Linked DNA regions of Homo sapiens. The protein of the gene in region 2 purifies or fractionates together with the protein of the main gene of each other region. This does not show direct contact. Each region holds a gene or a part of one and is shown on either strand. Other genes may lie near its edges.

Region 1 (3,500 bases), on a different chromosome or scaffold from region 2:
TCATTAAAAAAACTCAAAAGAAACAACAATTAACTGGAGCCTCATCTCGATGCTGCTAATAACTAGCACAGAGGCAAAAAGGAAAAGTTAAAGGGCATCCCAACTTCTGCACTAGACAATCAAGTAGCAAGTCAGTATGATTTGATTGTTTTCTCCATGTACATACAAGTTCTATAGGGTAATCACTGGGCCGAATGCGGTGGCTCACGCCTGTAATCCCAGCACTTTGGGAGGCTGAGGCGGGCAGCTCACCTTAGGTCAGGAGTCCTAAACCAGCCTGACCAACATGGTGAAACCCTGTCTCTGCTAAAAATACAAAATTAGCCAAGCGTGGTGGCGGGCGCCTGTAACCCCAGCTACTCAGGAGGCTGAGGCAGGAGAATTGCTTGAACCCAGGAGGTGGAGGTTGCGGTGAGCCAAGATCGCGCCATTGCACTCCAGCCTAGGCAACAAGAGTGAAACTCTGTCTCAAAAAAAAATAAAAAATAAATAAAAAATAAAAACAATTAAAATTACCTAGTGTTCACTGTATTATACATAAAAATATAAAGAAACTCCCATGTTATTTAGCTCTATTAAATTTTAAGTGAAATTAATCCTCTAACATTTATTCTCAATAGAAAGGAAATTACATTATCTAACATATTGATTAGTACAGGCAACAAAAAAACAGAATAGTATTTATACTTAGTTTTCACATTTTTATTTAAAAAAAATTTTTTTTTAGAGAAAGGGTTTCATTCTGTCACCCAGGCTGGAGTACAGTGGTGAGCTCAAAGCTCACTATAGTCTTGAACTCCTAGTCTCAAGCAATCCTCCCACTTCAGCCTCCAGAGTAGCTGAGACTACAGGAACGTGTCACTGTCCCCAGCTGAAAACATCTTTTTGATATCAAAAGTCTGATTTCGTTGTAAATTTTCACAATTCCAGACATTAAGAGGGCAATTAAGAGACATAGATCACATAATCACATTTTCCAGTCATTTATCTTTAAGGGTTGGTAGTTACTTCTTGATCTTCATTACACCTTCTTACAACCTTTGTCCTATTTTCTTTCTTCTTTTTCTATTTAATCCCAACACTTCTCTCCATTTCCCTTCTCCTCCCACCTCTTCTCACCTGTTACCTTTCCTATGTGGCAGGACATCGACCACCAAATTACTAACTTAACACACACAAAAAACATTTTAAGACAACAATTAAAAACTGACCGAGTTCTGAATTAGTAGCTAGCTTGGCAGTTTTCTAGTTAAACTAATTACTCTAACTGGAAAAATAAAATTATATGCACACACATGGTCTGCTTACAACTTTAGTATCCCTCCATCAAAAAATAGGAGAGAAAAAGAGAAAAAAAGAAAAAGCAGTACTTCTCAGGACTCAATGACTATGAGAAAACTGGTACTTGTAGCATCTTTGTTTAGTTTAAATGATTCCTTTGATGTCGTTAATGACCTTGGATGTTTTAAATGCTCTGAGTCAACAAGTAATATGTCATAAGTTCTAAGTTATTTATAATATCACTACTGAAACCACACTTGTATAGCCACCTTTGGGAAGATGGGAAGGACTAGCACTTTTATCCCTATTTACATAGAAATGGAGACACAGCTAGTAAGTGGCAGAAATGGGAAGACCATAGGTTTCTGGAGGCCTTGTCTACAAATACCTGGTTTAAGTAAATATACAAGACAATTCTGATCCATCAAGAAATGGGGAACTGCTACAATCTCCCATCATAGTTTAATGAGGGCTGCAAAAGGATTAAAATGTATTGACAAGTTTATGTCATTGATTTTCTCTCAAGAGTAATGGCAAATGGTGTTCATTCAGCACAATGAGTAGTCAATAAATAATGTTAACTTATTCTTATAAGAATATTCAGTCTGTCCAGAACTAAGTCCTCTCTTAGAGCTACCCCCTATTACCCAACTCAAACATTTCTACAACCAAGTCTGCTTAAGAAGACAAAGAGGATGCTTCACCTGCCAAAAACCTGACTGTCTTTGGAAGGAACTGTGTATGTGTGCTAGGATTAGCAGGAAGGTTTGATTAGGATAAACCACGTTTCCTACTCACCATACTGTGATGAGAAAATGTGTTCCCTGAAGCAGGCTGTGATATGGCAGTCTGCTTCGAATTACTGAACACCAGAGGCTGGGCCAGAGAAGGAGCCTGAGACGGATCCAGATTAGATGAATCATTCTCCATTGTAGATGGTGTCTTCCCCAGCAGAACAGCAAGGTCAATTCTAATGGGGAAGGGAAGGGATCTTCATGAAGAATGACTGAACACGCTAACATTCCCCAACACTCAAATCAGATTAGATCAAAATGAAGCCACTTGCTGGGGCTTCTTCTAAAAGGGTTCAAACACAAAAGCCTTGAAATGCTTAAATGTCCCAAAATAACTGATGCATAAGAGTCACTACAGTATATAGCTGAATTCCACTGATGTTGCCAATAATAATGGTTAATTTTTTAAGTGAAGTTATTAATTTAATGAAATATCAAATGCTAGTTTTTGTTTGTTTGTTTGTTTCGAGAAAGTCTCGCTCTGTCACCCAGGCTGGAGTGCAGTGGTGCAATCTTGGCTCACTGCTAGCTCTGCCTCCTGGGTTCACGCCATTCTCCTGCCTCAGCCTGTAGCTGGGACTACAGGTGCCTGCCACCACGCCCGGCTAATTTTTTTTTTTTGTATTTTTAATAGAGAAGGGGTTTCACGTGTTAGCCAGGATGGTCTCAATCTCCTGACCTCATGATCCGCCCGCCTTGGCCTCCCAAAGTGCTGGGATTACAGGCGTTAGCCACCGCACCGCACCCGGCCTCAAATGCTAGTTTTAACATGGCAGCTCAATAACTCAGCCAAAACTTACAAGTACTTATCCATGATTTTAATACTGAATACCTGTCATTACCAATTCCTAAAACAGAAAATCATATACCAGAACACTGGAATCTTCAAATGGCTTTAGAACAGGGGCAGTCTGAGAGATATTTTTTCCCACAATTTTCGTAAAATTTCAAAAGTTACCTGTGGTATAATATATACTTGAGCTTTGCCTTGTTCCTGGCATGGAGCTCCTAAAACATTTAGAATTTCCTAAGTGATAGTGTCCTTTGTTACTCATAACACACTTCTTTCAACCATACCTGAATGCTAATGAGGTAGCCCAGGGTGGGGCCCCAGATAGTTTCAGGATGAGGGTTGGTCACTAGAAAGACCAGATAAGGCTGGATGCAGTGGCTCACACCTGTAACTCGGCACTTTGGGAGGCCAAAGCAGGCGGATACTTGAAGTCAGGAGTTTGAGACCAGCCTGGCCAACATGGTAAAACCCTACTAAAAATACAAAACTTAGCCTGGCGTGGTGGCGGGTGCCTACTATACCAGCTACTCGGGAGGCTGAGGCAGGAGAATCGCTTGAACCTGGGAGGCGGAGGTTGCAGTGAGCCAAGATTGTGCCACTGCCCTCCAGCCTGGGCAACAGAGTGAGACTCT
Region 2 (3,500 bases):
TTACTTATCTATTTTGCTCATTCTTTATCGTCTGCCTCCTCTGCTAGAACGTAGCTCCAGCAAGGAAGGAAGTGTGATATATTTGATTCACAGTCCCTAGAACAGCGAGTGGCACTTTGTAGGTGCTTAATAAATATTTATTGAATGAATAAATGAAACACGGCCAGGCGCAGTGGCTCACGCCTGTAATCCCAGCACTTTGGGAGCCTGAGGCAGGAGGATCACTTGAGCTCGGGAGTTCAAGACCAGCCTGAGCAACATAGTGAGACCCCCCACCTCCATTAAAAAAAAAAAAGAATAGAAATAAGGCCTGGCACCAGAGGCTCATGCCTGTAATCCCAGCACTTTGGGAGGTGAAAGGGGACGGATCACCTGAGGTTAGTTCGAGACCAGCCTGGCCAACATGGTGAAACCCCATCTCTACTAAAAATACAAAAATTAGCCAGACGTGGTGGTGGGCACCTGTAATCTCAGCTACTTGGGAGGTTGAGGCAGGAGAATCCCTTGAACCCAGGAGGCAGAGGTTGCAGTGAGCCGAGCTCACACCACTGCACTCTAGCCTGGCTGACAGAATGAGACTCTGTCTCAAAAAATAATAATAATAAATACAAAATAAATAAATGAAAGACTTTCTCACCTTCAGGGGTCTTGTGCAGGTGTTTGGGGGCAGCCCTGGACTCCAGACTCCGTCCTTCAGTCTTGGCAGGTGCAGACGACTCTGAACACAGTTCCTGGGAACAGTCTGGTTGGGGGTGGGTGACATTAAAGTGATTCTGTTTAGCTTCTCCCCCATATTCCTCTAAGACTCGCTTTTTCTTCCCTCATCCCCTCTAGGGGGATACTCACCACAGTCCTCATAGATGGTGTCTGGGGAGCAGGGAAGGGGGCCTGGGGTTGGGAAGGCTCCCAGCCAGCGCTGCATGTCTGATCTGGTGGGGATATTGGGAAGTGTCACAGTTGGCCCAAAAGATCCTCTGGGGCTGAGGCAGGAGCCACAGAAGAGAGAGACTGGGGAAGTGGGGGAGGTCTGAGAGGTCAGATAAGTGTCCCAAGGTTGTTTTCTGAGGGAAACACAACTCACAGGGAAGAAGCTTGGAGTAGTCGGTGGGTGGGGCGGCCCTGGTGGTTGCTGAGAAGGGAGAGGCGGAAGGTAGGGGGTCCAGATGGATCCGGAACCTGCTGGGCCTGGACCAGGGAGCGATGGGCATAGTCCAGAACCTGTAACCGCTGCCCACTGCCCAGGGATGAGGTCGTTCAGAAGGACAGCAGGGGTCCCGCTGGACCCCTCCTGCCCACTCCAGCCTGGGCTCCTTCCTTCCCTAGGACTCACCTCTTAGGCTGAGTGATGAGCAGCAGGTCGCTAAAGAGCAGCAGGCAAAGAGGGGTGAAGCGGGGGCGCGAGGCAAAGAGCACGCCCCCCCTCCGGCACCCTAACTCAGTCAGCTCTCCCTGGAATTCCAGGCGCCGTGACCAGGAGACCAGGGGCAGGGCCTGCGAGGAAGCGGAGGCAGAGGAGGTTCTAGCGTGGCAGCAGCAACATGGGGCAGGGCAAGATGGGGAGCCTGGGCAGCGATGTACCTTGACTTTGTGGAAGCGCAGCCTTTGGGTGAGCCGGATCAGCTCTTCAGTCTGCTTCATGCGCCCCACCTCAGCGCTGCAACGCTCGATGATCTAGGTAAGGGGAGCTGTGTCACCACCCCAGCGGCCAGCCCCCTGCTCCCTACCATTTCTCTCTACCACCTTGTCACCTCCCCCTGCTTCAGCTTCCCCACTGCCCACCTTGCTGACAGCACCCAGGGCCTTCTGGGCATTCTCCTGACGGCTGGACCCCTCTTCTGTCTGGCGCAGGATATTCTGGGGACAAGGAGGAAGGGTGACTGGGCCCCCTGCTCTGTGGCCCTGGGATTCAGAGGGGCCACAGCTCAGAGGACCCTGTCTGTTTCAGCCAGTTTCAACAAGGCTGACAGACCTCATCACTCACCATCTGCAGAACCCTGAGCAAGTCCTGTTACCTCTCTGAGCCTCAGCTTCCCTATCTGTAAAATGGGGCTAATACCCACCTAGCATATCAATAGCATTGTTTTGAGGATTCAAGAAGGCAATATATGTAAAGTGCTTAGCATAGTTCTTGGCACATATTAAATGTTGAAAAGAAGGTTCTTATTTTTTTTTCTTCCGGAGTCTGGCTCTGTCACCCAGGCTGGAGTGCAGGGGTGCGATCTCGGCTCACTGCAACCTCTGCCTCCCGGGTTCAAGTGATTCTCCTGCCTCAGCCTCCCAAGTAGCTGGGATTACAGACGTGTGCCACCACGCCCGACTAATTTTTTTGTATTTTTAGTAGAAGCGGGGTTTCACCATGTTGGCCAGGCTGGTCTTGAACTCCTGACCTCAGATGATCCACCCGCCTCGGCCTCCCAAAGTGCTGGGATTACAGGCATGAGCCACCGTGCCTGCCCCGAAGGTTCCTATTATTTTAATAATTATTAACCAAAACTGTTAGTGCAGGCAATATAGCAGAGTAGCTAAGAGTGCTTAGATTACAATTTTGTCTCCATCAATTATTTCTGTATGACCTGAGGCAAGTTATGTGACCTGTGCCTTAGCTTTCTCATGTCTAAAGTAGGACAAGTAATAGTTCCTACCCTCACATAGTTGCAGGTAAGGTTACACAGGTGTATAGCACTTAGAACCATTCCTAGAAAGCTTAATAGCTGTTGAGCTATTTTGATTAGTATCATTATTATTATTTTGTTGTCTACAATGGGGATAGATAAAGCTGAATAAGATCATAAAGACACTGATAATCTAGTTGGGAACTCTTCACATAAAGATCCCCTCATTCACTGGGCTCAGTAGCTCACACCTATAATGCTAGAGCTTTGAGAAGCTGAGATAGGAGGATTGCTTGAGGCCGGGAGTTCAAGACCAGCCTGGCCAACATAGTGAGACCCTGTCTCTATAAAAATAAAAATTAATAAATAGCCGGGCATGGTGGCATTGTAGTCCCAGCTACTCTAGAGGCTGAGGCACAAGGATCCCTTGAGCCCAGGAATTTGAGGCTGCAGTGAGCCGTGATCGTGCCAGTGCTCTAAAGATCCCCATATTGGGAGACCTGGTTAGAAAGGACTCTCTGCTTTGCTATAGAAGAGAGTGTCTTAGGCCGGGTGCAGTGGCTCACGCCTGTAATGCCAGCACTTTGGGTGACTGAGGCAGGTGGACTACATGAGGTCAGGAGTTCGATAGCAGCCTGGCCAACATGGTGAAACCCCATCTCTACTAATAATACAAAAATTAGCCAGGCATGGTAGTCCACACCTGTAATCCCAGCTACTCAGGAGGCTGAGGCAGGAGAATCGCTTGAACCCGGGAGGCAGAGGTTGCAGTGAGCCGATATTGCGCCACTGTACTCCAGCCTGGGAGTGAGACTCCGTCTCGAAGAAGGAGATGGAGAAGAGGAGGAGGAGGAGGAAGAAAGTGTCTCAAATCTCAAACTTTTTTTT
Region 3 (3,500 bases), on a different chromosome or scaffold from region 2:
AAGAGATGAGAAACAAGTGGTTTATCTTAAATAGGTATTTTTTATCAGTGAGTTAGATTGATATGGAGTCATCTCACTTGGATTTATCCCAGTAGCTGAGTGAACTTCTGTTGTTTCCCTTCTAGACTCATATGTAGCCTCAGTGTTAGAGATGAAGAATATAGATACGAAACTTTTCAGAATAGTGTTTGCAAGTAGAAGGTGCACGTTATTCATTGGTTTAACAACTCTCTTGATTAAGAAAATTCAGGCTTTTTGTCAGGGCAGCATAAATACCTAAATTAGACCTCAAAATTTTAGTAATAATTCGTCATTGTATATTTAGCTTGCAGTTGTAATCATGTGACTTTTATTAATACCAGTAGCTCTGGAAATATGACTCTTTTAAGACATATTTACAGTAGAAAGTTAAAATTAGTATTTTAATTTAATATTTAGTTAATGTGGTTGAGGCTTAGGTATTTCACACTTAAGAAATCTGTGGTAATTGGTCATGATTGTGCTTTTCACAGTTTATTTATTTAGAGACAAGGTCTCACTCTGTTGCCCAGGCTTGAGTACAGTGGCGTGATCTCGGCTCACTGCAGCCTCTGTCTGCCGGGCTCAAGTGATTTTCCTACCTCAGCCTCTGCAGTAGCTGGGACTATAGACATGCACCACCACGCCTGGCTACTTTATTTCTTGTAGAGGTGGGGTTGCGCCACGTTGCCCAGGCTGGTCTCGAACTCCTGGCTTCAAGCAATCTAGCCGCCTCAGCCTCCCAAAGTGCTGGGATTACAGGCGTGAGGCACCTCAACCAGCCTCACTATTGATTAAAAAATTTTTTTTCATCACTTTTGGGAGACTGAGGTGGGAGGATCACTTGAGCTAAAGATCTTGAGATTAGCCTGGGCAACATAGAGAGACCCTATCTCTACAAAAAAAAAAAAAAAATTAGCTAGGCCTGGTGGCATGTGTCTGTGGTCTTAGCTACTTGGGAAGGTGAGGTGGGAGGATCTCTTGAGCCTGGGTGGTCAAGGTTGCAGTGAGCTGTTTTTTTGTGCCACTGAACTACAGCCTGGGCAACAGAGACCCTGTCTCAAAAAAAAAAAAAAAGTCTTCATTAAACTTTTAGTTTTGAGATAATTGTAGATTGACATGCAATCCTAAGAAATGAGATTCTTTGTACCTTTTACAAAGTTTCCATTGATGGAAACATTTTGTCAAAACTATGCTACAACATCACAACCATGATACTGACAGTTAAGATAGGGAACCTTTAATCCCAGTGCTTTGGGAGTCTGAGGCCACAGGATCCCTTGAGGCTAGACCAGCCTGGACAATATGGTAAGTTCTGGTCTCTACAAGAAATTTAAAAGCTACCTTGGCATGATGTTGTGCCCCTGTCAGCTCAGGCGTCTGCGGCAAGAGTATTGTTTGAGCCCAGGAGTTCAAGGTTGCAGTGAGCTATGATCGTGCCACTACACTTAGCTTGGGCAGCAAAGTGAGACCCTATCTCTTTAAAAAAAAAAAAAAGAGAGAGAGAGAGATAGAACATTTTCATGGATTCCAAGGATCCCTTATGTTGCTATCTTATGGCCATACTAACCCCACCCCCACCCTTCCATGATCCCTGATGATCACAAATCTGGCAATCTTTGTCAGATATGTAGTTTACACATATTTTCTCCCAGTATGTAGTTTTCATTTTCTTAATAGGGTCTTTCATAGAACCAAAATATTTCATTTTGATTAAGTCTAATTTACCGCTTTTTATGGATCATGCTTTTAGTTTCAGGTCTTATTAACTCTTTGCCTAGTCCTAGATCTCAAAGACTCTCTCCTATTTAAAAAATAAATAAAAGTAATATTGTTTTACATATTACATTTATTTTTTATTTAGAGACAGGGTCTCATTCTGTCACCCAGGCTGAAGTACAGTGGCACAGTCACAGTTCACTGTAACCTCAAAGTCCTGGGCTCAAGTGATCCTTATGCCTCAGCCTCCCAAGTAGATGGGACTACACATCCATGCTGCCATGCCTGGCTAATTTTTAAAATTTTTTGTAGAGGTGGGGGTGTCTCCGTATTGCTTAGGGTGGTCTCGAACTTCTGACCTCAAGCAGTCCTTCGGCCTTGGCTTCCTGAAGTGCTAGAGTTACAGGCGTGAGCCACAGCACCTGGCCTACATATTACATTTAAGTCTGTGATGCATTTTGAATTTTTATGTCAAGTGTGAGATTTAACTTGAGGTTCCTTTTTGTGGGGTGGATAGTATGTTCGGGTGTTCTGGCACCTATCTTTTCTCATTGAATTGCTTTTGCACCTTTCTTAAAAATCAGTTGAGCGTATTTGTGTGAGTCTATTTCTAAGTTCCCCACTGTGTTAGATTGAGCTGTATGTGATCTATATGTATGTTCCTCTGTCAGTCCCACTGTCTTAAGCTGTAGCTGTTTAAGTCTGAAATTGGGCAGACTCATTCCTCCTACTTTATCCTTTATTTTCACAATTGTTTTTAGATATTCTAACTCATTTGTCTTTCCATGTAAATTTTAGAATAAAGTGATTATATATAATTTTGGTGTTCATTACTAGAATCTAGACATACAGTTAATTTTATGTTTATCTTGTATTCTGTGACATTGCTGGACTCAGTTCTAGGAGTATTTTTGGATAGATTGTCATTTTTTTAATGTGGACAATCATCTTCAAATATGGAGGTTTTATTTATCTGCAGATACGGAGAGTTTTATTTCTCCCTTTTCTATCTGTATGCCTTTTATCTCCTTTTCTTGCTATATTTCACTGGCTGCAACTTCCGCACTGTGTTGAATAAGAGTAGTGAGAGTGGACATCCTTGCCTTGTTTCCCATTTTAAGGGAAAAGTATCTGTTGTTTCATCATTAAGTATAATGTTAACTGTAAATTTTTGGTAGATGATCTTTGTCAAGTTATGAAAGTTCTGTTGTATTCCTATTTTTCTGAAATTTTTTTATCATTAACTTTCAATATTAACTTTTTGTCAGATGTTTTGTCTGTGTTGATTGATAGGATTATATGATTTTTCTTCCTTAGCCTGTTAATATGGTGATTTTATATGATTAATATGATTGATTTTCAAGTATTGAGACAGTCTTGCATGAGCCCTACTTTGTCATATAGTGTATCTCTTAATTCTATCTTCTAATGTTTTGTTATGGGTTATTGTGTCTATATTCATGAGGAATATGAGTCTAATTTTCTTTTTGTGCTATCTTTGGTTTGGCATCAGAGTAATACTTCATAAAATGAATTAGGAAGCATTGCATCCTCTTCTGTTTTTTAGAAGATATTGTGTATAATTGGTGTTAACTTTTCTTAAGTATTTGGTAGAACTCACCAGTGAAACGGTCTGGGCCTGGAGATTTCTTTATTAGGAGATTTACAGTTATGAATTTAGTTAACCTAAAAGTTTTTATAGGACTGTTCCAATTATCTATTTCATATGGGTGACTTGTGGTTTGTTTCTGATAAATTTATCC
Region 4 (3,500 bases), about 55 Mb from region 2:
ATACCTTTATGAATAAAATCGTGGTTTTAAAGTATGTTCTAGGTTTCGATTTTTTATGACATCACATTCTGTTTTTCAGAACTTCGTTTGGGTTGTGACAGGTATTTGTTAGTGTCACAGTTTGTTAATATATTATTCACAACTTTGTAGATCCATGCAGAATGTAAGCGGTTTGGAAAAGCATATAATCTTCGATCAGTGGCCGTATATGGAGGAGGGAGTATGTGGGAGCAGGCCAAGGCCCTTCAGGAGGGGGCAGAGATTGTTGTGTGTACCCCAGTAAGTATGCCTTGTGTTTAAATGGCTTCTCAGCCTCCCTCGGTATGGAAAACATGATTAGTTTTGCAGAGAATTTCCCCTAAAGTGTGGTAAAAGCAGGGTTGAAAATATACTGATGAACGGCAGGCTGTGGTTTTAATTTTGATTGGTGGCTAAATTAGCAGTTCAGTGAGAGTCTCTGTGACATATAGGCTAGTAGCTACAAATTCCCCTCTATGTCAAATAGTTTTTCTTATACTCTCCCACAAAATGATTGCCAAGTTCATCAAGAATCAGAAAGATACATATGGTCAGAATAGCCTAGAAGAGTGTAGTTTAAACATTGAAACCTGTCATTATGCTTTAAATCAGGTCACTTTAGAATGCCTCAAAAACTGCTTCTGGCCACTTTCCCACAGAATTTAAATCACAGTGTAAATGAAGATGCCGATTGAGTTTTCAAAATTTCTGTTCCTTTGAGCTAAGTAGTGCATAAGGTATGTGGCTGTTGGACCAGTATCTATTACAGTCTGAGACTAGAGAATTAGCACTTTTGCCAGGAGTGCAACTGCTTAGAAAGTCCCTGTGAATGCCTTTAATTATACTTACTGTTCATTTTGTTGATCTTATAGGGTCGACTGATAGATCATGTGAAAAAGAAAGCTACCAATCTTCAAAGAGTCTCTTACCTTGTGTTTGATGAAGCAGATCGAATGTTTGACATGGGATTTGGTATGCCTTGAATACCAGTTTCTTCTGTCCCCATCCTCATGATACTAGTTTTTTTTCCATGTCTTTCTAGACTGTTTTTTCAGCATGAGAGAAGCTAAAAATACTCCTGGATGGGGTTAGACTATAGAAATATAGCTAAGATGAACATTTTTAGGAGTTTTCTCTGGAAAAGTATGTTAGGTTTTATTGGGTTGAGGAAATTTCAAAGTGCCTTTGTATATAAGGGGAATATTTTCTCTGTCTTCATTTTTATCCATATGCCTTTGATCATAGAGGTTAAGGTCTGTGTTCTTGGGTAGATGAATGTCAGATCATTCGAGGCCCTTTGCTTTCCTATCCTCGTAGCTGTCTTTACTGATTGGAACACTGCTAGACCTAGCCCAGTTGGATGGAGGGAAAATTTTTCACTTTTATGCTGAATGATATGTTTAGGAGCTTCTTTTTTCTTGAGACAGAGTTTTGCTTTTGTTGCCCAGGCTGCAGTGCAGCGGTGCGATCTCACTGCAACTTCCTCCTTCCAGTTTCAAGCGATTCTTCTGCCTCAGCCTCCTGAGTAGTTGGGGTGATAGGCACCTACCCCACAGCCTGGCTATTTTTTTTTTTTTTTTTTTTTGGTATTTTTAGTAGAGATAGCTGTGTTGACCAGGCTGCGAACTCCTGACCTCAAGTGATCCGCCTGCTTCGGCCTCCGAAAGTGCTAGGATTACAGGCATGAGCCACTGTGCCTGGCCTGGGGTTTCTAATTTTCTTAATTCTTACAACTTCTTATGAAGACTTTTACTAATATGGCTTTTTCCAGGCTTCCCAAACTGTATTTCAGGTTATAATAATTTTATTGTTCTGTTTCTTGCAGAGTACCAAGTTCGATCCATAGCAAGTCATGTTCGTCCTGACAGGCAGAGTATGTATGAAGCACCTTTGTTAAACCAAATTTGTACTAAAAAGGGCACTTATTTATTTTATAAGCACTCAGAGTTATGGAAGTAAAAATGATCTTGTGTCTGTTGGTGAGAACCATAATAAGGGAGGTAATGAGTTTATCTGAGCTGGACAGGATCTTAGCACTAGATATAACTTGTTCCTTTTTATAGATGATAAAACCAAGGATCAGAAATTAAATAAACTGCCCTAAATTATACAGTTTTATCAGTGGGTAGAAGCAGTGTACAGTACAGATCTGCTGATTTGAAATCAAGAGTCTTTTTCTGAACCATACTGACAACTTGTCTTAACTAAAAATGTAATAAAAATAGAATAAGAGCAAATCTTTCCCTAGTGAATCAGTTTCTAAACTAAATTTAAAGTTCAGGTGAGCTTATGTAAAAAAACTGAATAATCCTGAATGCCAAAGAAGCTTAATGGGTATGCATAAAGATATCATATTGTTTCTCTAACAGAATTTATCTTACCTTTTAGCTCTCTTATTTAGTGCAACTTTTCGGAAGAAGATTGAAAAGTTGGCCAGAGACATCCTGATCGACCCTATTCGAGTGGTGCAGGGAGATATTGGAGAGGTAACCCTAAGCAGGGCTGGATGGGACCTTAATGGGTTTATTTCTCATATTATGGAACACAGAATTAATTTCTCACTATTGAGATAAAAAAAAAAGATGTTATGTTTATAGATGCAACATGCTTGAGATTGGGTATTTTGCAAGTTGTGGGGATAGACGTAACAAGACTGGCAAAATGTTGGGAATCATTGAAGCTAGGTGATGGGTATGAGTTGATTTTGTTCATTTTGTGTTTTTTTTGTTTTATTGAATGTCTCAAAACTTACAATTGTTTTAAAAAGGCTTCAAAGAGACAAAAAGATGTGCCTGGAAGCATCAGCGTATTAGGTTGGAACTGACGTTTTAATTATTGTGGTAGGGGCCTACGCAGGAGGGAAAGGGTGACCTGGAAGGCCTGGAAAAAATCAGGTTTCATTTCTTACCTGTACATATGCGCTATGTGAAAAATTACTCTGAATTGGGACTTGGAATTCAGTTATGGCTGCTTAGAGAATCCTTCAGTTGCTTGCCATGGTTATTGTTAAGGAAAGCTCTACAAAGTAGTGGGGCATACAAATTAGGTATGTACACCAGGTGGAGAGCAAGGTGATTGGAAAGGAGAGGTGAGTTTTGAGCTGCACTTGACTTGCTGAAGGCCCAAGGAGAACTGGGATTGTTCAAGGTCTTCTCGATGCAGGTAGAAATATAATGCCTAGTCCTTGTTCAGGTGCCCTGTGGCTCCAATGTCACAATCATCTGTTTCATTTCTTCCTTCTCAGGCAAATGAAGATGTGACACAGATTGTGGAGATTCTCCATTCTGGACCTAGTAAATGGAACTGGCTTACCCGGCGTCTGGTAGAATTTACCTCTTCAGGGAGTGTCCTCCTCTTTGTTACTAAAAAAGCCAATGCTGAAGAGCTAGCGAATAACCTTAAACAGGAGGGTCATAATCTTGGGCTGCTCCATGGGGATATGGATCAGAGTGAGAGAAACAAGGTCATTTCAGACTTTAAGA
Region 5 (3,500 bases), on a different chromosome or scaffold from region 2:
TGGATTATCTATAGCACTGGTAAACAATTGCAGAGGCAAATTAATATCAGGACAAAGAGCACTGGGTTCCACATGATAATCTAAAGGGCAGAAAAAGCTTTCAATAAAATCTAACACCCCTTCATGTTAAAAGTTCTCAATAAACTAGGTATTGAAGGAGCATACCTCAAAATAATAAGAGCCATCTGATAAAGCCACAACCAACATCATACTGAATGCGCCAAAGCTGGAAGCATTCCCTTTTAAAACCGACACAAGACAAGAATGCCCTCTCTCACCACTCATATTCAACATAGTATTAGAAGTCCTGGCCAGAGCAATCAGACCAGAGAAAGAAATAGAGGGCAACCAAGCAAGAGGAGAGGAAGTCAAACTATCCTTGTTTGCAGATGACATGATCCTATATCTAGAAAATCCAATAGTCTCGGCCCAAAAGCTCCTTAATCTGATAAATAACTTCAGCAAAGTCTCAGTGTACAAAAATCAACATACAAAAGTCACTAGCATTCGTATACACCAACAACAGTCAAGCCAAGAGCCAAATCAGGAAGGCAATCCCATTCAGAACTGCCACAAAAGAATAAATATCTAGGAATACTGTTAACTAGGGAAGCGAAAGATCTCTACAAGAAGAACTACAAATCACTGCTCAAAGAAATCAGATATGACACAAACAAATGGAGAAACAGTCCATGCTCATGAATAGGAAGAATCAATATTGTTAAAATGGTGATACTGCCCAAAGCAATTCATAGAATAGACTCAATGCTATTCCTATCAAACTACCAATGACATTCTTCACAGAACTAGGAAAAACTATTTTAAAATTCATATGGAAACAAAAAAACAGCCTGAATAACCATGGCAATCCTAAGCAAAAAGAACAAAGCTGGAGGCATCATGCTACCCAACTTCAAATGATACTAGAGGGCTCCAGTAACCAAAACAGCATTGTACTGGTACAAAAACAGACACAGAGACCAATGGAGCAGAATAGAGAGCCCAGAAATAAGGCCACACACCTACAACCATCTGATCTTTGACAAAGTCGACAAAAACAAGCAATGGAAAAAGGACTCCCAATTCAATAAACAGTGCTGGGATAACTGGTTAGCCATATGTAGAAGATTGAAACTGGACCCCATCCTTATCTCACATATAAAAATCAACTCTATATGTATTAAAGACTTAAATGTAAAAGTAATGTAAAACTCAAAATTATAAAAACCCTCAAAGAAAACCTACGTAATACCATTCTGAACATAGGAATGGACAAAGATTTCATAACAAAGACGCCAAAAGCAATTGCAACAAAAGCAAAAATTGACAAATGAGATCTAACTAAACTAAAGAGCTTCTGCACAGCAAAAGAAACTATCGAGTTAACAGGCAACCTACGGAACCAGAGAAAATATTTGCAAACTATGCAACTTACAAAGGTCTAATATCCAGCATCTATAAGGAACTTTAACAAATTTACAAGAAAAAAAACAACCCCATTAAAATGTGAGCAAAGGATATGAAGAGACACTTTTCAAAAGAAGACATACATGTGGCCAAGAAGCATATATAAAAAATTTACATCATTAGAGAAATGCAAATCAAAACCACAATGAGATACCATCTCACACAAGTCAGAATAGCTATTATTAAAAAATCAAAAAAAAATAATAACAGATGCTAGTGAGATTGCAAAGAAAAGGGAACCTTTATACACTGTTGGTGGGAGTGTAAATTAGTTCAACCATGGTAGAAAACAGTGTGGCAATTTCTCAAAGACCTGAAAACAAAACTACCATTCAACCCAGCAATATCATTATGGGGTATATATCCAAAGGAATATAAATCATTCTATCATAAAAATACATAAACGCGCATGTGCATTGAAGCACTATTCACAATAGCAATGACATGGAATCAACCTAAATGCCAGTCAATGGTAGACTGGATAAAGAAAATGTATGTTAGTATGCAGCCATAAAAAACAACAAGATCATGTCCTTTGCAGGAACATGAATGGAGTGGAGGTCATTATCCTTAGCAAACTAATGCAGGAACAGAAAATCAAATGCCAGACTGGGCATGGTAGCTCACACCTGTAATCCCAGCACTTTGGGAGGCCAAGATGGACGCATCCCTTGAGGCCAGGAGTTCAAGACCAGCCTGGACAATATAGCGAAACCCCATCTCTACTAAAAACACAAAAATTAGCCAGGCAAGGTGGTGCACACCTGTAATCCCAGCTACTTTGGTGGCTGAGGCACGAGAATCGCTTTAACCCGGGAGGCAGAGGTTGTAGAATACCACATGTTCTCACTTATAAGTGGGAATTAAATGATGAGAACACACAGACACATAGAAGGTGGAGGGTGGGAGGAGGGAGATGATCAGGAAAAAATATTTTAATAACTAATGGGTACTAGGCTTAATACCTGGGTGATAAAATGATCTGTACAATGAACCCCCATGACATGAGTTTACCTTATGACAAACCTGCACATGTACCCCTGAACTTAAAATAAAAATTAAAAACAAAGAAGAACACTGGATTCCAAGCCTAGCATGTAGCTGGTCAAATCTACAACCTTGGATAACTCCTGTCCTTTTCCTGGGCCTTAGTTTCCCTTACCTGTGCAAAGGCAGGAATGGGATGGAGGGCAGCCAATTAAACTAGATAAATGGTCCAAAGACCATTTCAGTGCTGATGTCGGTGGTTCTATATACTGCCTTGCATTGCTAATGCTTCCTATATTTATGTCTCATTGGCTTCCTTAGGCTCAAGAGGGGAAGGGGGCCTCAGTAGAGGTGGGTATGGGTGGCATAGAGGGGCTACCAAAGCCAACTCAGTGGGAGGACAAAGGTGCAGAAACAGGCCCAGACCAAAATAAGAGACAGCCACACACATGATTTCACGGGCACTAGAAAAAATACCACCTTTACAAATAGATCCTCGAAGCTAGGTCAATGATAGCTGAAATTTCATAATTAGAGATTTAGTCCTTTGGCTGAAAACTCAGTAGTAATGGTAGCAGTAGTAATAGTAACAGGCAGCAGCTTTCCTGTATCAAGACTTGCTACTCACCAGGCACTTCATATGTACTACCTCATTTAATATCAATAATCACCCTGTGAAGTAGAGTATTATCTCCACATTGGAGATAAAGAAATAGGTATTTGTCTAAAGTCACATTGCTATTAAGCAGGGGAGACAGGGTTTGAATCCAGGTCTAAATCCAAACCTCACAATGTAAACCAATATGCTAAATTCCTCTTACAGAGTACAAAAGTCTCCCATTAAAAGAAAAAAAAGATTGATTTTTAGTTGTTAGATATTTTGCTTAAATAATGTATATAGTACAGCCACAAAATGGCTTCTTATATGGTCATACAAAATCTTTATGAAGACTATTTCATGCTCACGGAAGACACTTTAGTAATATTGAGGAAATGTAAACAGTATTTCATAGAGTCCGTGAGCTCAACTTTGTAAAATGTATACA
Region 6 (3,500 bases), on a different chromosome or scaffold from region 2:
TTACAAAGGTATTAGAGGCTGGGCGTGTTGACTCAGGCCTGTAATCCTAGCACTTTGGGAGGCCGAGTTGGGTGGATCATTTGAGGTCAGGAGTTCGAAAACATCCTGGCCAACATGGTGAAACCCCGTCTCTATTAAAAACACAAAAATCAGCCGGGCATGGTGGCGTGCACCTGTAGTCCCAGCTACTCACTTGGGAGGCTGAGGCAGAATTGCTTGAACCCGGGAGGTGGAGGTTGCAGTGAGCTGAGATCGTGCCGTTGCACTCCAGCTTGGGTGACAGAGTGAGACTCCATCTCAAAAAAAAAAAAATGAAGAAACCCAAAGATATTATAATAAATTCCCATGGTAAAAATTAAGACAGTACAGAAATGTATGTGGAAAGTGAAAACTACTCTGTAATCCCACCCAGAGATAACCATTGATAAATGTTTGGTTTATAGTGACCCAGACATTTTTCTGTGCACATAAACTAGCATTGAGGTATTTTTATTTAAAAAATCATATCTTGCTATGCTACTGTTGCACAGCTTGCCTTTATCATGTAACAGTATGTATTGGACATCTTTCCATACTTCCCTTTATTATTTTTTGGATTTCTTATTATTTTAATTTGCCACATGGTATTTGTGTAGTTACTGTAGTTTATTTAACCAGCTTTTTATTGATAGCTATTTGGGTTGTTGTTCTAGTTTATTATATTGTACATTATGTTTCATGGGATAGTCTTGTACATATATAGTGCACTTATATAAGCATTTTAATACAAGTTCCTATAGGTGGAATTGCTGTGCCCAGAGTATACAATGTATAAAAATTTTTGTAGTGTCAGTTTGCCCTACTGAAAGATTATACATTGTTTCCAGCACTGTAGGTGAGGGTCCTTTTCTTTCCACCCTAACAAACAACAAATATTAATTACCTCAAGAAACATTTATCTAGTTCTTTGTTTTTGAAACGGAGTCCCCTCTGTTGCCCAGGAGTGCAGTGGTGCCATAATTTAGTTTAGTTTTATTTTGGTTTTATTAGTTTATGCCATACTTTTAGTTTCTAATAGGCTTAAAACCTTAGTCTTTGACTTGTCCTTTTCCCCTTTGTTCAGTTAGTTATAGTCCCCCCCAACCCCAAGATAGGTTTTTACTCTGTCACCTAGGCTAGGCTGGAGTGCAGTGGTACAATCATAGCTCACTGCAGCCTCCATGTCCTGGGCTCAAGTGATCCTTCCACCTTACCAAGACTACAGTGCCACCACGCCCAGTGAATTTTCCTTTTGATTTTTTGTAGAGATGAGGTCTTGCTATGTTGCTCAGGCTTGAGCTCAAGGGATCCTCCTGCCTTGGCCTCCCAAAGTGCTAGGATTATAGGCAAGAGTCTGCACCCAGCCTATAAAGTCTTGCTAATTTTATAATGTTACCATTTTTTCCCTCTCCTTATAAATATGTACTTTTTAAATTATCAAAAAATTGGAAGAGGACGGACAGGAAATAAAGAGATAATCCTGTTAACATTTTAGAGTATATCCCATTAGAATTTTTTCTTTGTATGCAAGTACATGTACATATATTTAGTGCAGCCCTATTAGTTTTACAAAGTGATGCCTGTGTTTCTTTTTTCCTTTATTTCTACTGCTAGTGTCTAAACTTTTTTTTTTTTCTTTTTTTGAGACAGAGTCTCGCTCTGTGGCCCAGGTTGGAGTGCAATGGCGTGATCTTGGCTCACTGCAACCCCCACCTCCTGGGTTCAAGCGATTCTCCTGCCTCAGCCTCCCAAGTAGCTGGGACCAAAGGCGTGTGCCACCACTCCTGGCTAATTTTTGTATTTTTAGTAGATATGGAGTTTTACCACGTTGTCCAGGCTGTTCTTGAACTCCTGACCTCAGGTGATCTGCCTGCCTTGGCCTCCCAAAGTGCTGGGATTACAGGCGTGAGCCACCACGCCCGGCCTACTCTAAACTTTTTAAAATTCTTTTTTCTATATTTTAAAATAATTTTTAAAAAACAGAGACAGGGTCTCATTGTGTTACGCAGGCTGATCTTGAACTTTGGGCTCAAGTGATTCTCCTGCTTTGGCCTCCCAAAGTGCTCTAAACTTTATGTCCTAATGCCTAAATTATTATTTAAGTTAACTTTTATTTTATTTTTTGAGACAGTATGGCTCTGTTGCCCAGGCTGGAGTACAGTGGCATGATCTTGGCTCACTTCAACCCCTGCCTTCTGGGTTCAGGCAATTCTCCCGAGTAGGTGGGACTACCCTACTACAAGACTCCTGAGTGGTGGTGTGTGCCACCACGCCCGGCTAATTTTTGTGTTTTTAGTAGAGACGGGGTTTCACCATGTTGGCCGGGCTGGTCTTGAATTCCTGACTTCAAGTGATCCGCTACCTCGGCCTCCCAAAGTGCTGGGATTACAGGCGTGAGCCACAACACCCAGCCTGAATTAACTTTTAATGTATCCCATCCTTTTCTCCTAGTTTTACCTACCATCAGATTACTCCTTCTAAATATTACTTTGTTTTAAAAATTTATTTTTATTAATTATCATGGGTACATAATAGTTATATACATTTATCATAAACATTTCTTAAACGATATTTTTCAAAATCTTTAGTGTCACTCTTGTTAAGAATCTTGGCTGGGTGAGGTGACTCACACCTGTAATCCTAGGACTTTGGGAGGCAGAGACAGAATTACTTGAGCCCAGGAGTTTGAGCAGCCTGGACAATGTAGGGAGACCCCATCTCTATTAAAAATAAAAATAAATTAACTGGGTGTGGTGGCGTGTGCCTGTGATCCCAGCTACTTCGAAGGCTGAGATGGGAATATCTCCTGAGCCCAGGAGGTTGAGTGGAACTGTGATTTTGACGCCACTGCACTGCAGCTGGGTGACAGAGTGAGATGCTGTCTCAAAAAAAAAAAAAAAAGAAAGAAAAAAAATCTAGTGTTCCACATCCGATTATCTAATGTATTTAACTACTCAGTTTAGTATTGAAAATGTGCTTTACGCCTAGATCACCATACCTTTGTTCATATCCATTTTTCTCTGATCCTGTTTTGTTTATCCTAAAGTCTGAGGAATATATATGTAGTATGCTTCATATTCATCTGAAACAAATGTGAAGGAAAAGAATCACTGTGTTTACTTAAAACAGTTTTTTCCGTATGTGTATGGAGATGGAGTCTCTCTCACTATGTTGCCCAGGCTGGTCTCGGACTCCTGGGCTCAAGTGATCCCCCGCCTCTGCTTCCCAAAGTGCTGAGATTATAGGCTTGAACCACTGTGTCTGGCCTAAAAAAATTTTGTTTTAAATTATTTTTGTCTCCTATGGTCTTGTCTGAAATCAATACTATGAGTTGAATTTGTGGAGAAAAACTTACTCTAGAAAAGTATAGCATAGGTGACATCAGGGTTACAAATAAGTATTAGAATATCAGTTCTAGTCAGTAAAATGAAATATATATTTAAATTCTGTAAAATTATTTATGTATTTCTTTGACTCCTGGT

The links.
Region 1: the proteins of ARHGEF15 (region 2) and UBAP2L purify together in Homo sapiens (affinity purification with mass spectrometry, with the first as the bait; one large-scale study listed by BioGRID). This does not show direct contact.
Region 3: the proteins of ARHGEF15 (region 2) and SUGT1 purify together in Homo sapiens (affinity purification with mass spectrometry, with the first as the bait; one large-scale study listed by BioGRID). This does not show direct contact.
Region 4: the proteins of ARHGEF15 (region 2) and DDX42 purify together in Homo sapiens (affinity purification with mass spectrometry, with the first as the bait; one large-scale study listed by BioGRID). This does not show direct contact.
Region 5: the proteins of ARHGEF15 (region 2) and MSN purify together in Homo sapiens (affinity purification with mass spectrometry, with the first as the bait; one large-scale study listed by BioGRID). This does not show direct contact.
Region 6: the proteins of ARHGEF15 (region 2) and CCNT1 purify together in Homo sapiens (affinity purification with mass spectrometry, with the first as the bait; one large-scale study listed by BioGRID). This does not show direct contact.

Annotation. Positions count from the first base shown.
Region 1 is NC_000001.11:154,244,955-154,248,454, reverse strand, and holds part of UBAP2L (ubiquitin-associated protein 2-like), read right to left. Parts: intron 2,252-3,500; coding exon 2,080-2,251; intron 1-2,079. UniProt on the Homo sapiens protein: Recruits the ubiquitination machinery to RNA polymerase II for polyubiquitination, removal and degradation, when the transcription-coupled nucleotide excision repair (TC-NER) machinery fails to resolve DNA damage.
Region 2 is NC_000017.11:8,316,741-8,320,240, reverse strand, and holds part of ARHGEF15 (rho guanine nucleotide exchange factor 15), read right to left. Parts: intron 1,900-3,500; coding exon of another isoform or gene 1,855-1,899; coding exon 1,780-1,854; intron 1,672-1,779; coding exon 1,579-1,671; intron 1,492-1,578; coding exon 1,331-1,491; intron 1,235-1,330; coding exon 1,082-1,234; intron 930-1,081; coding exon 847-929; intron 743-846; coding exon 638-742; intron 1-637. UniProt on the Homo sapiens protein: Specific GEF for RhoA activation. Does not activate RAC1 or CDC42. Regulates vascular smooth muscle contractility. Negatively regulates excitatory synapse development by suppressing the synapse-promoting activity of EPHB2.
Region 3 is NC_000013.11:52,680,336-52,683,835, forward strand, and holds part of SUGT1 (protein SGT1 homolog), read left to right. Parts: intron 1-3,500. UniProt on the Homo sapiens protein: May play a role in ubiquitination and subsequent proteasomal degradation of target proteins.
Region 4 is NC_000017.11:63,808,670-63,812,169, forward strand, and holds part of DDX42 (ATP-dependent RNA helicase DDX42), read left to right. Parts: intron 1-150; coding exon 151-279; intron 280-890; coding exon 891-990; intron 991-1,843; coding exon 1,844-1,891; intron 1,892-2,406; coding exon 2,407-2,504; intron 2,505-3,262; coding exon 3,263-3,500. UniProt on the Homo sapiens protein: ATP-dependent RNA helicase that binds to partially double-stranded RNAs (dsRNAs) in order to unwind RNA secondary structures. Unwinding is promoted in the presence of single-strand binding proteins.
Region 5 is NC_000023.11:65,712,654-65,716,153, reverse strand, and holds part of MSN (moesin), read right to left. Parts: intron 1-3,500. UniProt on the Homo sapiens protein: Ezrin-radixin-moesin (ERM) family protein that connects the actin cytoskeleton to the plasma membrane and thereby regulates the structure and function of specific domains of the cell cortex.
Region 6 is NC_000012.12:48,706,708-48,710,207, reverse strand, and holds part of CCNT1 (cyclin-T1), read left to right. Parts: intron 1-3,500. UniProt on the Homo sapiens protein: Regulatory subunit of the cyclin-dependent kinase pair (CDK9/cyclin-T1) complex, also called positive transcription elongation factor B (P-TEFb), which facilitates the transition from abortive to productive elongation by phosphorylating the CTD (C-terminal domain) of the large subunit of RNA polymerase II (RNA Pol II).